2 linked regions of the Homo sapiens genome follow. The protein of the gene in region 1 interacts with the protein of each later gene in a pairwise test. Each region holds a gene or a part of one and is shown on either strand. Other genes may lie near its edges.

Evidence for each region.
Region 2: the proteins of KYNU (region 1) and MYOZ3 interact in binary tests that used the Homo sapiens proteins (3 or more experiments, as listed by UniProt).

The regions. Positions count from the first base shown.
Region 1 is NC_000002.12:142,872,648-142,881,518, reverse strand, and holds the start of KYNU (kynureninase), read right to left. Parts: upstream 3,856-8,871; 5' UTR 3,783-3,855; intron 175-3,782; exon of another isoform or gene 1-174. UniProt on the Homo sapiens protein: Catalyzes the cleavage of L-kynurenine (L-Kyn) and L-3-hydroxykynurenine (L-3OHKyn) into anthranilic acid (AA) and 3-hydroxyanthranilic acid (3-OHAA), respectively. Has a preference for the L-3-hydroxy form. Also has cysteine-conjugate-beta-lyase activity.
Region 2 is NC_000005.10:150,664,251-150,671,250, reverse strand, and holds part of MYOZ3 (myozenin-3), read right to left. Parts: intron 5,738-7,000; exon of another isoform or gene 5,220-5,737; intron 3,135-5,219; exon of another isoform or gene 2,979-3,134; intron 2,866-2,978; exon of another isoform or gene 2,653-2,865; intron 1,929-2,652; exon of another isoform or gene 1,821-1,928; intron 1,102-1,820; exon of another isoform or gene 1,042-1,101; intron 768-1,041; coding exon 613-767; exon of another isoform or gene 444-612; intron 1-443. UniProt on the Homo sapiens protein: Myozenins may serve as intracellular binding proteins involved in linking Z line proteins such as alpha-actinin, gamma-filamin, TCAP/telethonin, LDB3/ZASP and localizing calcineurin signaling to the sarcomere.

The sequences.
Region 1 (8,871 bases):
TACCTTAACTAACACACACAGTGTTTGGCAATAAAGAGTTGCATATCTGAGTGTTAGATAATGCCAGTAAAACAGACATTCTTCTTACACTCTCGATTTTCATTCTTGTACTTTTTGGGCTTCTTCTTTTCTCAACTGTCGATGGTCTCCACTGATAAGCCATTCTTTATATTCCTAGACAAAGATACCAAGGTTCACCATTGCATGTTTTTTACTTTGATATCAGTTGTGACTCCTAACTGCTTCAATCCATGGTTCTGTACAAAAGTGTAGGATTTCAACATTGATGGATGGTGCTTTCAATATCTGACCATAAGTATTATTTGTCCTCCACATGAAATTTTCTATTTCTGTGATTTTTCTCATGCCATTTCCTTTGCCTAAAATGTTTTGCTCCCCTTCAACTTGTTTGGATTCTAGCCAACCTTCAAAGACCTAATGCTCCAATGCTTTTTTCAAGAGGCCTGTTAGGATGTCTCAGGCAAAAGTAGCCCGTCTTCCTCTGAACACCAATAACAATTAAGAGCACACTTATGTACTTTACTTACGATAATAATACATTCTGCCAGGTACTATATTTATTTGGACATATGTATGGATAGGAAAGATCAAAAACATTTGCTATGCCTGAAACTTGATTCTAAATGGCTCCCCACACATAGCTTTCTGATGAAGGAAACTGCATTTTGAAGAGAGATCACTGTGTCTCTACCGCTTGGCATTATCAATTGCCTGGTCATAGTTTATTAGACCTCTGTTGGACACTTACCCACTAAAGACAATGTAGTTTCATCAAAGATCTGTGAATTATTTGCTATAAAAGCTCTAACCAAACAGTGATGATGTTTAGCTGAGTACATAATCAAATTCTTTCAGGAATCTGAGCTGTGGGATGTGCTTATTCATTCAGTTAGATACAGGAGCTAGAATTTAAAATAATCATAGATAGAAGCTATGAAATGCTAGGGTCTAGGAGGAATACTGTCATAGAATGACTCATTTTTCAAAGTAAAACAGAACCACTGATTGTTAAAGCATGAAAAGCATGAAGTGATTCCAGCAGCAAGTAAGAGTCACTTAGTTACACAATGGCAAGGGATTGAACAGCTATGTCTCCTGAAAAGGTGACAAGACAAGCCCATCTTGCAAGTCACTGAATCCTTCATGCAACATGCTATGTGCAAGTCTCCAGGGGACCCATCTTCTTGGCTATTCCTAAAATTCCATGAGATGTTTTTCTGCCTTACTATCAGATTAGTCTTACTACAAACATATTACTGATGGTAGCTGGACTGAGTTGCTGTTCTACCCTACTGAACTGAACTCTACCTGGGGGCCTGAATCATGTTTAATTTATCTTTATAGACATCTCATTTAGACAGAGTACCCCTGCCGCCAAAGTGGCAGTTCGAGAGAATAAACAAAATTGGTTGATGAATTATTTGACATAATGACATATTACTAGAAGGGCACCCTCTCTCATTCTGACCATATGAGAAAGACTTAGACAAACATTTCTAATGAAATTCAGAATCAAGAGAGCTTGCCTTATATTTGAGACTTTCTTTGGGAGGTCAGCCCTTTGAGTTGATTGGAGGTGACTTTAAACTCTAAGTGGGGTTACTTAAATAAAGAGATTAGTTTGTTACCAACAGATTCTGAATAAAATTCAACTTTCCTTATTTTAAAAATGATACTCATTAGCGTCATTCTATCTGTATCTTATTTAATGCTTGTAATAATCCTGAGGCATCAGAATCCTTTTCCTCTATATTGAGATGAAAACCTGGCACAGACAGAGTAGAAACCAGTGGACTAAAAGGATAGCAGAGTGCACAGTAGGGTACTTAACCATGCCTGAGATGCTGAGTCCATTGTGCTGGTCTTTGGCAAAGCCCATGAATGGAATGCACAGAGCTCAATTCCTCCTCGAAGCCTTGAACCTCTCACTTTATTTTTCCTTGCCTGTTGCTTCCTGATGTGTGTGTGTACGTGTGTGTATTTCTTCAGCTCATTCCCTTTTTCTTTGGCTTCTTTTTTCAGTCCTACACTTAAGCTGCAAAGGACCACAAGCTACGTATGAATTGATTTACCTTTTTAATCCATCCTTCCCAGTCCAGTTTCAGCCAGGCAAAAGTTAAAGTGGCTGGTTCCGCTCCTGGGCCTGTCACATCTGGGGTACCTTGAGATACCTGATGGGCATAGTCTTCCAAATGACTGCACCCTGCCCTACTCCACCACTTGCACAACTTCGCATGGTCTCAAATATAGTCTTTAGTTCCCAGAATAGCATAGTGCACTCACTCTAAGGATGCAATTTATTCACTCATACTAATTGCTGCTTAATTCTGCATTCACCCCAGCAGCTAAGACAATTAGTGTTCACAAGCCATAATGTTATGCCATGTTTAGTTTGCAAATAAAGTGACATGCTCATATTCTGAAAGGAAGAACTTAAATCCAAACTTTTAAAAACTTCAACTTTTACATATTTTACAAATTTTCAAATGTTACATATTTAGTGTTAATTTTATCAAGACGGGGGACATACATACCATATGGTCTCAGACAAATCACCTAACTGCTCTGTATGTCAATGTTATTTAAAGTTAAATTTTACTTTCTTCAAAGGATTATGGTTAAGCTCAAATGACATTAGGTCCTTTATAAAAAGATAAAAGATAGTTTGTAATATTTTTTTAAATTATCAATACCTTCTGATGGACAGCATCAATGTGCCTTCGATTTAGGTTTGGAAATTGTGCTTTCACAATTTTATTTAGACAGCTACAACTTTAAAGTAAAAAGCTTGTATAATAATTAAAAACTGATTGATTTTAACGAAATCACAGAATTCAGAATCTCCTAGTCACCCACTGATTTAGGGCTAAATAGTTAAATAAATGACTGAGTGTCTGGTAGTTAATCTTTACACAGTTTCACATTCATGCCTGAAATAAGCAAATTGTACATAGGAGTTCAAAGTTTAGAACCTGACTTAAAAATATGTTGAGAAAGCGTGTAGTTTTTCATTAGTAAAGAAAAAAGGAAAAACAATATGCATATTGAGCAAGATTCTTTAAGCATATCATTGAGAAATGGGTAACATTACTCTGCTACGAGTGTATATTTCATATCTAGGATATGAATTACTTGCTGAACACGTTAAGAAAATCAATACATTTGCTTCAGTGTTACTACTAAATAACACCCCACTGGCCTCAAAATAAAAGCAGAAAGGAAAAAAGAAAATCTAGTATATTTTTAAAAAGTGTATCAACTTTCTTTTCTTAGGTTTCATAAAATGAAAGGGGAAGAAACTCTGTTCAAGAGTAGGCATTTTCACTTCTCTAAATAAATATTTAATATGACTACTAGCAGCATAAGACAATTAAAGTTACCAGAAAACAGAGGACTTAAAATCTGTTTAAGAATATCTTTCCCTCGTCTGGAGTTTGACCTAATCTTACCGCTTAAACTCAAATAAGAACAGGACTAACTTTGGTTTGTCAAATGTAACCATATTCAGTGCACTATGTTCATCAGTTCTTTTCTATTACATTAGTAAAGATCTTTTCATTTAACCCATTTCTAAAGGTGGGGCCTTTAGGAAGGTCATACCATTTTTATTTACAAAAAGAATATATATAAAAAAAGAAGAGAGTAGCAGAAAAAAACCTCTAAAACACTATGACAAGGATTCTAGCTGACAGAAGTTTCATTTGGAAAAAACATGGAGTAAACATTAGGGTAGAGAGTTTTTATCAGCGCCTCAAGCTTACCAGCTAGGATCCCAATGGAGTGTTTGGCTCCCAGAATCTCTCCAAGAACCTCTCAAGAATTCCTTGAAAATGTACAGGCCAGATCTTAGGGTGAGAAATTCAAAGAACTGCTCAGACTCCACCCAGTGGAGAATTTATAAATATTTTACTTTACTTCCTCTCCCCTAACCAATCGGTAATCTCCAGCCACTGTCAGAAATTTAAGCAACATGTGCTCCTGCCCACCATTTCAAATGCCAGAGCCTCCAGTGAGGGCTTCTTTCCAGAGGCAACTTTGCTCTTTAAACTCAGGTAAACACACACTTGTCCTTTAACTATATAAATCTCTGACCCCTGAACTGATGAGTTGGTCTTAGAGCTAAATTCCAAATTTTGCCTTTCTTCTTCACTTTGAGCTCTGGATTTTTGAGACAATACCCTCCTTCAAATACACTGAGGATTTTCAGTCTGATGGTTGAATCTATGACATTTAATGGGTAAACTTTTTAGTCAAAAGTTTAAAATAGGCTCTCAATTCCAGAATACACTCTATTGCCTAATATGTGAGTTTTCAAAAACTCCTAGGTAATAAATCTGGACAGTTAACAAGACAATGAAGGAAGAAAGATCTGAAGATTCAAGTGGAAACTAGCCTGGCAAACTTCATTAATGCAAATTATTCATTTAAGTCTGTGAATTGTCTTTTGTTCTAGTCTGACTACCTCTTTAGGCTTATTCCTGAGCTTGGGTCTTTTGATGAATATCCTTGTAGTTATAAAAACTAAGAGCAAAGACTTTCGATATTAGGACTAGGGATGAAGAATGTGCTTGAATAATTGAATGACTTATGCACACCTATGCTTTATTTAGTAACCCACAACAAATCAAGTAAAGTGTCATTTAATCATTTCTATCAAGTGTTCATTGTATAACCCTGAGCAATTCACTTAACCCTTGTGGAGGCTCAGTCTCCTATTTATCAAATGAACTTAATAATACCTTCCTCCCAAGATTACTGAAACGATAAAACCATGCAGGTTGAAGGCCATAGATACCATGACACTCAAGTCAAAAGTGACATATTGTCTTTTTTTTAATCTTAAGTAACCAGACAAAAAGTACTACTCTCCAGTTTCCAAGAGAGGGAGATAAAGTGCATGAAATTGCTTTAATACGAGTAATTGACCAGTGAAAATAAAATATATTTCACTTCATTGATCCTATCCTTACAATAATCCTATAAAGTAAGTAGACTACCAATTGATTAACTTAGAATAGTAAAAGTTTGAATCCATTCAGGAAATTTCAGAAGGTGTACTTTTTTTGCATCTATTCTGTGTATGCCTCATGCTGTAAAAACTTTGGAAGATTACCAGGCTCTAATATATGGGGAGCGAACCAGAGGGCGGATCTGTGTCATTTTTGTGTCACTCTTTTAAAGACTGACTATAGATTTAGAGAGCTAGATATGGACATTAAGGTTTTGTTTTCACAAGATCTTGCTTCTTCTAAAATCTTGTAATAATATGATTAAAAATTTCATCAAAATATTATCTTAAAAACTACTGTTTAACTTGTCACCTTTAAAGAACTTGCTTGGAGGTCTAAGCTATACTTCTATTTCTTATGTTTTATAAATTTCTTTCTTTCTTTAAATTTGTTACATTTGAGGAATAAAAATAAAATCCCAAGCCCCTAGATTAACTGAACGGACACGCTCTTGGCCAAGGGGATCCCAGAGTAAACTTGAAAACTAAGTTTTTGGCCATGACAGGATAGGAAGTGGAACACATACCCGCTCCATCACTAACTATGATTAGGCTTTCTGCCCTATGGCTAAAAAGAAACCAGTCATTTCAAAAGATTACACCAATGACATCAACCATCACCTGGTGTTATCCCTCTCTTTTGTGGTTTGGAACAAAAAGAAAATACTGATCATGGAATGTTTCTGGCTAGTCTATGGAGAATGTGCAGTAAAGGTTTTCATGTCCTCTGCTTCACATTGGGCTGAAAACTGCCCCCTCAGATTGTATTAATGCTGTCATTTTTTGAACACGGATCCCATGGAGAAGCATGAAACTCCATTGTGCATGTGCACATTTCTCCTTTCACAAATATTCATGGCTTCCCCTATAGCTTATTGAATATATATATTCAGCTACCCTGCTCAACATAAATTTCTGTTTCCTTTGCTCCTCCCTCAAAATGTCTGTTTCCAGCTTCTGATTAGAGGCTATACTTTTCAGAGGTCAGAATGATCACCCTGCAGGCTGCAATCCTTTATGTGAAATGAAGCTCTCCTTTCCAAATGTATGAACCTGTCATTCTTCAGTTGACACTTTCATTCATTCAAGAAAAGTATTAAGCATATTCTCTGTACCAAGCACAAAGTGAAATGCCAGGGATGTAATGGGGAGCAAAACTTGTATAATAACATAGGCCGCTAAATACAGAAGGGAATTATGAGAGAACGAGTCATGCGGGGAGGGGTGAAAGCAAGACCCGCTACAGGGCCAGCAGTCAAGGTTAAACAGAGAACACTGTGAGATACCATTCCTTCCTTTTGGAAACAGGAAGAAAAAAAGTGTTGCCAGAATAAGCTGTTGTACAATTCCGAGTTGTCTATTAATTTCCAGGTATGGCATCCTGCTTATAAAATGATATGTTTCCGAGAGGAAAAGACTAATTTTATCCTCCTCAGAGCTCTACCTATGTATGGAGCTAAATAAATATCTACTGAATTGGTTAATTTGTTTTTTTTTAATTAAGATCTAGTTTATTTTCTAAAAATTGATTATTGGAAATATGGGAAAGTTTTGTCCTCTCAAAAGGTAATCTTGAACCATGAACTTTATTCTTATTCTTCAGGGCATTTTCGCCATAGTTAGGCCAGTATCTAGCATTTAGTAGACTAAAATGGGTGCTTGCTGGATCATTAACTAAATTAAATTCAGATCAGCAAACTCTTTATGTAAGAATCCAAGGCTGCACTACCAGGCTGATCATAACACTCTAATGCTGGGTGCTCAGTATGTGAAATGAGTAATGAGATTAAAGACAGAGACAAGTTAGGAAAGAACTAATAAAAAAAACTGCAGTCTCAAACTTGGGTAAACAGAAAATTTCACAATACGCTATTTTTCTTAATTAAATAAAAACGCAGAGCTCACATGTGACTTCTTAGGAGGAAAATTTACTCTGAGTCATTATTGGAACTCTCCTTTCTTCTTTACACAGGGTGTTGGGAAGTTCCCAGATGGGAGGGGCAGATTAGCTTCCTTCTCTCTGCCCTCCTGCCTCTCCTTTCCCCTCACCATATCCCTGGGGCCTTGCACACCCAATCACTCTTTCCAAACTTCCCCTTGGGGATAACCAATATAACATAACAAAAACTTTCTCAAATGCCAGTCATGAGATTTGCCTTAAGCAATTTCTGCCAAGGAACCTACAGCATCTTCTCTATATGGGTAGGGGAAAATATAAAAAACAGAGCACACACAAAATTATCTCTCCTCTCTTCTTCCCTCTCCCCTTATCTGTCCTTCCTTCCCCTCTCCTTCCTTTCCTGCTGCCCCCTCCTCTTTCCCTCTTCTTGCCTTCTCTCCTCTTTCTCTAATGCCCTCCTCTTGCCTTCTCTTCCTCTCTCTCTCTCTCTCCTTTTCTTTTTCCCTTTTTCTCTCTTCCCTCCACTGCACTCTCATTTCCTCACCCATACTCTCCTTTCTTCTCCCTCTCCCTCCTACAACAGGGAAGGCAAAGCAAATTAATATGCTAATAAATCACTAGGCTATGTTTAGACAATCTACTTTTTCCTTCCTGTGAGATACATAGTCTGGTTATTAGAAAAATTTCTCAGTAATGGGCGGGGACTTTCCTACCCTCTCTATATGTTGTATTTTCAGTTTTTCAGAGGAAAATGCAAGGGCTCGTTATAAGCAAATGACATTTTGCCAGTTGGTGATTAAAATTTATTTAGAATCTAAAATTCCTATAACCCATTCCCTTTTTCCTAGATCAGAACTTTTCCCTCACTGTTAAACTCACAAAGGTATAGAAGGCAATCTAAATCATGTGCGGTAGCAGAAGAACTTTAGTAGTTTTCTGTTATATGTGTTTGCAGGTCAATTTGCTCAATTGTCTGATTGTTTACATGAGGAATTTCTGAGTTTCCTGTAAAACATGAAAAACCCAAAGTGACTTGAGTCATATTGACATCATTGACCACATAACAACATCATTGATGTCATGATGACTCTGGAAAACGGGAACAGGCATTACAAAATCTCCATTTAAAGACAAAGCTTTCATATACCAGGGTTTCTTTCTATAGTACAAGGTACGATGTACATGCCCTCTTTTACCATAACAACTTACAACAGAAAATTTTTTTTCTTAATATTAAAAATGACTATCAACAGGGATAGTGTAGAGCTGATGTTTGGAGATGTCACTTCAAGATCCTCTTCTGGGATTTGTCCTTTTTCCTATGTTTGTCTGGCAAAGTATTTTCTAGTGTCACTAATAAACGGTGTAAAATTTCCCATTTTGGAAGTGTCCAGTATGGGTCCACCATTTTGCCAGTCGTTTGAAACTTCTCATAGCTTACAGTATGACAGACACCAAAATATAGCAAATTCCTAAATTGTCTTAACCCCACATCGCAGGCAGGGGAAAAGAGTTCACTAGACTAGGATCTGAAGAATGGTGCAATATGTCCCCAAAAGCCAAAGAAAAGTGCTTCTGAGGGGCTCTGAATCTAGACAAGGAAGATGCAGAGTATTAGATAAGAATAAGAGCTAGTAAGAAACAGAAAAGGACAAATGCATTTGAAATTTTAACTTGTCTTCATGTAAGAAAATAGTGTCCTCTATAGAAATATTTTTGTAATTTAGAGGAAAAATATAATTAGTTAGCAAAATACAAATTTTCAAAACTGACCAAATAAGAGAAACACTTGAAGAAAACAATTCCTTTAGAGGAGATTAAAAATGCATTTAAAGAGTTATTGTATAAAAGGAAACATCCCCACTGCCAGGAAGTACAGAAAAAAAAATAGAAGGCAACATTACGTTTGAAAAGTTTTGCATATGAATTCTAGCACAGCATT
Region 2 (7,000 bases), on another chromosome or scaffold:
GTCTTAGGCACATAGCAAAGGCGGGTGTTTTGCCATCTTTATTTTTCTGCCACATCACTCCCTCTCAGTTGCCTCCTGTCTAGCCCAGAAATTAAGTGGAGGGTGGATGGAATAGCCCTGGCTTCCTTAGAAGTATCTGGAACTGCCTGCTGCCTTTCTGAAGCCAAGGGAAAAACCCTTCTTGCCTTTCTTCTCCACCAGCAGATTATTCCATGGCCTTTCCTTTCTCCGGTGGGAAGAAGAAAAAAGGGCATTCTACATTTTCCATCTTAGATCAGGCCCAAGTCTAAACTAGATCCAGCCTGCTGCAAATTTAGCCTAGAGTGCATGCCTGTCTTAGCTTTTTTTTTTTTTTTTTTTTTTTGGTAGGAGCCAGAGTCCCTTCACTCCACGGCTTATCCTCAACCCCCTAATCCACTTTGTTTACTTTGTTCTGTATCCAGGGAGAGATGCCTAAAAAGATAACACTTTTCAAGGATCACACTGAAAGGCAGGAGCCTAATCTGATGGGAACATCACAGTCCTCAGCCTGGCTTACCGTTTGACTTTAGGCTAACCAGTGGCTCTCTGTGGTCCTCATTTTCCCCATGAGCACAATGGTGGCTTACTCACCGCCCGCTGGCTGGCTGCTAACTCGAAAGTGAACTTCTGCACACGGCGCTGCCTCTTCTGGAAGAGGAGGGACCCTCTGTTGTTGCGTAGTGACAGCTCCTCCATCATCAGGTCCTGGGGCACGCTCAGCTTCTTGCCCAGGTCCAGCGTAGGGACTGCCAGGAAAGGCCAGAGCGGGCTCTCACCACCCCATCCCCCATACACTCCAGGCCCCACCTCTCGAAGCATGGCATGCTGTGTGTAAGAATGCCTGTTTCTCACCAAGCTTGCCGACACCGGGTGTCATGATTGTTTGAAATCTTTGCCCACCTGATGGGCAAAAATGACACCTCAGAGTTTAATTTGCATGTGTTTGTTGCTCAGTGAAGTTTAGCACTGTTTCCGAAGTTCTTTGGCCATTTGTGTTTATTGCATGAATTCCCCATGCAGGTCTTTGCCCATAATGGTGGAGGTAGTGAGAAATGGTCAGATTCTCGATATTTTTTAAAGGTAAGCCATGGGTATGGGCAATGAGTGAGAGAGGATGACTGCAAGGTTTCTGGCCTTAGCCACTGGAAGGATAGAGCAGCCATTCACGGAGATGGGGAAGGCAAAGGGAGGAGAAGGTTCTGGGAAAGATCAGGAGTTCAGTTTTAGACCTGTGTTCTTTTAACTTTAAAATAGCCTTTTATTATTATAAAAAAGCATATATGGGCCAGGCGCGGTGGCTCACGCCTGTAATCCCAGCACTTTGGGAAGCCAAAGCAGGCGCATCACCTGAGGTCAAGGGTTCGAGACCAGCCTGACCAACATGGCAAAAACCCATCTCTACTAAAAGTAGAAAAATTAGCTGGGCGTAGGTGGCGCATGCCTGTAATCCCAGCCACTCTGGAGGCTGAGGCAGGAGAATCACTTGAACCCAGGAGGTGGAGGTTGCAGTAAGCCGAGATTGCATTGCTGCACTCCAGCCTGGGTGACAGAGTGATTTTCCATCAAAAAAAAAAAAAAAAAAAAAAAAAAAAAAAAGCATATATGGGCCCTGAGGAAAGTTGGACAATACAGATATCAGACAAAAAAGAGAAAAATACCATTATCTATCACCCAGAGACTGCCACTATTAACACCTTAGTGTATGTCCTTTCATATCTTTTTCAATGACTATATTCCTATGAGGTTTTAACCAAAATAAAATTATAGCATACATGTTTTGTAATTTTTTTTTTTTTGAGATGTCACCCAGGCTGGAGTGCAATGGCACAATCTCGGCTCGCTGCAACCTCCGCCTCCCGGGTTCAAGCAATTCTCCTGCCTTAGGCTCGTGAGTAGCTGGATTACAGGTGCGCACCACCACGCCCAGCTAATTTTTGTATTTTTAGTAGAGATGGGGTTTCAACATGTTGGCCAGGCTGGTCTCAAACTCCTGACCTTGTGATCCGCCCCCCACCCCCCCTCGGGCTCCCAGAGTGCTGGGATTACAGGCGTGAGCCACCGCTCCCGGCCTGTAACTTGTTTTATCAAGATCTTTACAAGTTAAAGATCTCCACATTTCCAAGTGAACAAATTTTTGTTTTACCTAATATCTAGTCCATATCCAAACTCTGCTAATTGTCTCCAAAACTGGGCACACTAAGTTTGAGGAGACTTGTAGGCATCTAAGTAGTGGTGCTGAGGAGGGAGATAGATGTGTGAATCTGGAGAAAACTGACCTGGAGGTGAAATGTTGGGCATCATGAGCTTTTACTGGTATTTACTGGTATTTGTTGTTGTTTTTCAATGAAGAACGTTACATTTATTTCTTTTCTCATAGTTGGAACTAGTCTTTACAGCTATTTAGAGGATTTTCAGGGTGATGGCTGTTCTTAGTAGTTTGAGACCCATCCCTATCCTTTGTGCGTTTCCTACCAGCCAAATTCAAACTTTCACGTTTGGCCAACAAAGGAAGCCTTTTGCAGGACAGAGGGGACAGAATGGTGAGGACCTTGGCAGGTGAGAGCCCTGTGTGGGCAGCACGGCCTGCCTAGTCCATCTCTAAAATCAGATACACATACGTTCATATTCCAGCTCCATAAATGGTATTTTAAGCTGGGAGGCTGGATGAGATCATAAAGAAATGAGAATAGGTAAAGAGGATCAGAGACGGAGCCTGGGGCCTCCAACATTTACAGTGAGGCGGTGAGGAGGAACCAAGCCAGGAGCCTGGGCAGGAGCAGCCCACAACATAGGAAGAAACTAAAGAGGATGGCATCCTGGAAATAAATGATGAAAGCATTTCAGGTATGATAGAGAGACTAACAGAGCCAAGTGCTGCTGATGTGTCAAGGAAGATGAGGGCTGAAAATCCACTATTATATTTAGCAATACAAGGTCATTGGTAATTTTCACTAAAGCAGTTTCTATGGAGTGTTTGGGTGTGAAAGCCTAACTGGAGAGGGTTCAAGAGAAAATGGACAGAAGAACAAGTTTAACCACACCATGAGGAAGCGATAAGCCAAATCCAGGACGCAGGACATTCTACAGGACAACTGGCCTGGTTTTTCAAACAAGTGAGTGACATGGAAAAAAGGGGCAGAGGGGTTGCTTTAGATTAAAGGAGATTTAGGAGCCATAGCAACCAAATAAAAACTGTGGCCCTTGTTTGGATGCTGATGAAAACAAACTAGAAAACTGAAGAAGGTTGAATACAGACCGCTTATTAAATGGTATCAAATCATTACTGCAAATTTTGTTCAGTATGCTAATATCTTTGTGGCATGTAAGGAAATGCCCTTTTATTATTTTGATGCATTCTGAAGAATTTGCGGGGTGAAATGACATGCTTTTTGGTATTAGCTTTGAAATTTAGGAATGAAGGAGGGACCATGTACTCCCTACTTGTATGTGTCTTTGGAAATTGACTAATAAAATGTCAAAAAGAGAGAAAGAGAGGATTGGTAAGAACAATATAGACAACTGCTTGGAAGAGTTGGGCTTTAAAGGATCCTGGCTACAGACAGCTATGGGATCAAGAGGGGTTTGTTTGTTTGTTTGTAAAAATGGAGAAATAACAGCATGTGCGTTAACTGACGGGAACATTTGACAATGCAATAGAGAGAGGGGAGAATTGCTGAAGGAATGTCCTTGAGCAGGAGTGACAGGAGAGCTGGGTTTCCAGAGCCCAGCCAGAGGAATTGGCACCAGGCAGGTATGAGGAGAGTCCATCCACCATATCAGAAAGGAAAACCACAAACACGGGTGCAGATGCAAGCAAGTAGACAGATGTGGCGGAGGATGCTTGCAGATGTTCTCTTCTGGTTACTCTATTTTTCTCAGTGGAATAAGAAGCAAGGTCTTTAGCTGAGAATGAGGTTGTGCAAGGAGGTATTGGAGGTTTGAGAAGAGGGGTTGCCAAAGTCATTAAGAGAGTAGCATGAGATAGTGAATGAACTAGGGAGATGGACATGGCTACCAGGCAGTACTGGGGGTCACTTGGGTGCTGTGATTCATGCCAGTCAATGGAATCCTAAATAGCTGTCTAAAAAGGACACTGATTTTTTTTTATTCTTTCAACGGACACATAAAGGACACTTTTTATGTGCTAAGAACAGAAAGAAATCCACTTATAGGCCGGGCGCAGTGGCTCACACCCATAATCCCAGCACTTTGGGAGGCAGAGGAGGGTGGATCACTTGAGGTCAGGAGTTCAAGACCAACCTGGCCAACATGGCAAAACCCCTTCTCTACTAAGAATACAAAAATTAGCCAGGCATGGTGGCGTGTGCCTGTAATTCAGCTACTTGGGAGGCTGAGGCACAAGAATCACTTGAAGGTGGAGGTGAAGTTTGCAATGAGCTGAGATCATGTCACTGTGCTCCAGTCTGGGCAAAAGAGTGAGATGCTGTCTCAAAAAAAAAAGAAAAAAAGAAATCCAGTATAAATTAATTGGAGGGGAAAGTAAGATTCAGAAGAATAGGTATTCTAAGATCCCATTTATATTATATATTATATAACTATATTTTATATATATGTGTGTGTATATATATATATATATATTTTTTTTTTTTTTTTTTGAGACAGAGTCTTGCTCTGTTGCCCAGGCTAGAGTGCAGTGGTGCAATCTCGGCTCACTGCAACCTCTGCCTCCTGGGTTCTAGTGATTCTCCTGCCTCAGTCTCGCAAGTAACTGGGACTATGGGCATGAGCCACCACGCACGGCTAATTTTTGTATTTTTAGCAGAGATGGGGTTTCACCATGTTGGCCAGGCTGGTCCCAAACTCCTGACCACAAGTGATCTGCCCGCCTCAGCCTCCCAAAGTGTTGGGATTACAGGTGTGAGCCACCGCGCCCGGCCCCCATTTCTATATTAAAAAATAAGTATGTGTTTTTGCATGCATTGAAAAATCTGCAAGGAGACATGCCAAGGAGACATGTCACCACAGCAGTGACCATGGGACATATAAAGGAGGAGGGTTGGAAATTGTTTACACTGTTTTGTTGTAACTGTTTTTAACAAGAAAGTGTACTGCCTACTTAAAAATATAAAAGAATAGTTATACCTAAATACATAATAAAGCACCCTCAGTATCATATTCTGAAATACTATACAGATGAGCTGAGCTCAATATTGTTCTTTTTTTTTTTTTTTTTTTAGACGAGTTTCACTCTTGTTGCCCAGGCTGGAGTGCAATGGCATGATCTCGGCTCACTGCAACCTCTGCCTCCCGGGTTCAAGCGATTCTCCTGCCTCAGCCTCCCGAGTAGCTGGAATTGCAGGCATGCACCATCACGCCTGGCTAATTTTGTATTTATAGTAGAGATGGGGTTTCTCCATGTTGGTCAGGCTGGTCTCGAGCTCCCAACCTCAGGTCATCCGCTTGCCTCAGTCTCCCAAAGTGCTGGGATTACAGGCGTGAGCCACCTCCCCCAGCTGAGCTCAATATTTAAAAAAAAAAAATGGCAGGCACAGTGGCTCACAACTATAATCCCAGCACTTGCAGAGGGCAAAGTGGGTGGATTGCTTGGGCCCAGGAGTTCAAGACCAGCCTGGGCAATATAGCAAGACCCTGTCTCTATTAAAAAATAAAAAAAGATAAAATCTATTTGACTGAGTATTTCTATTTCTAGGAATTTATTCTCGGGGAAAAAGTTGAATAAATATGTCCAAAGATACATGTATAAGAATGTTTATTGCAGTGGGGTTTAAAATTGTGAAAACTGGGACTCAGTCTCGTGGTGGATGCTGCCAGATGCCCCTTATTAGTGGCTAAGAGTTCACACCACCACCTTCTACAGAGAACTGCCAGTGGAATGGATGCTCCACAGCGCCCTTGCCTCAGGTGGGATGAATTCTGTGGAGCAATTCATGCTCGAGAGCTCCCCGCGGGGTCACACTGAACTGGACAGCCGCTGAGCCCACATCCTCGCTCAGCAGTACCCCACCCTAGGCTGCATTCCTCCTTCCCTTCCGAGAGCACGTTCTCAATAAGTCACTTGCACAAGGCTCCTCTGTTCTGCCCCGAAGGATCTCACCCCAGACAACCCTCATCAGGGGATGGTTAAACACACATGACGTGTCCAAACAGCAGAAAGCTGGTAAGCACGGGGAAGGAAGGCGTGAGATAAATCATACTAGGATGGAATGCTGCTAAATGAAAAAAAAAAAAAGCCAAAGAACATAGCATATAGTATTTAGCCCATGTGTATGTATGTTTATATAAAGACATTCATATATGAACAGAACAAGAATTTACATAAATATGTTAACAGTGGTTATCTCCAGATGGTTCCATTATGATGAACTTTCAAAGCCGTTCATGTCTGTTTTGTCTGAATTAAACAAATTTTTTTAATGTATGCCAAGTCAATGGCAAGTGAATTTTTTTTTTAAAAAGTGATGTATTATCATTGTAACCATGTAATAAAGAAACAGCTCTGAAGACAAAGAGACCTGGAGTCAAATTGCAGCTCTACCACCTACCAGATGTGATCACCTGCTCCTCTGAGCCTCAATATTCTCATTTCCAAAATGAGGAGAATATCTAACTTAGGGAGTTGTGGTGGGGATGAAATGACACAAAGCATAAAGGATACTTTTCTCTTAGCAAAGTATCTGCCACATAGTAAGCATGCAATGATGGTAAACATTTTTATAACTTTTACTTTACAGTGGCCGTCTTTAGGTAGTGAGATTATGAGATTTATTTTTTCTTCCTACTTTTGTTTCAAAATTGTCTTTAGTCAGTACCTTAGCAATAATCAACAAGTTATATATTTCAAGTCTTGTATCAATGATGTGTCTCCATATTTGGGGGTCTGTAATGAACTCCCCAAGAGAAAAGAGAATGCATTGCCTGACCCTTCTAGTTAGAGCGTCAGTACCCATAGAATGTGCATATTTCAGCTACAAAATCAGGGTAGGGGAAGAAACTGGAC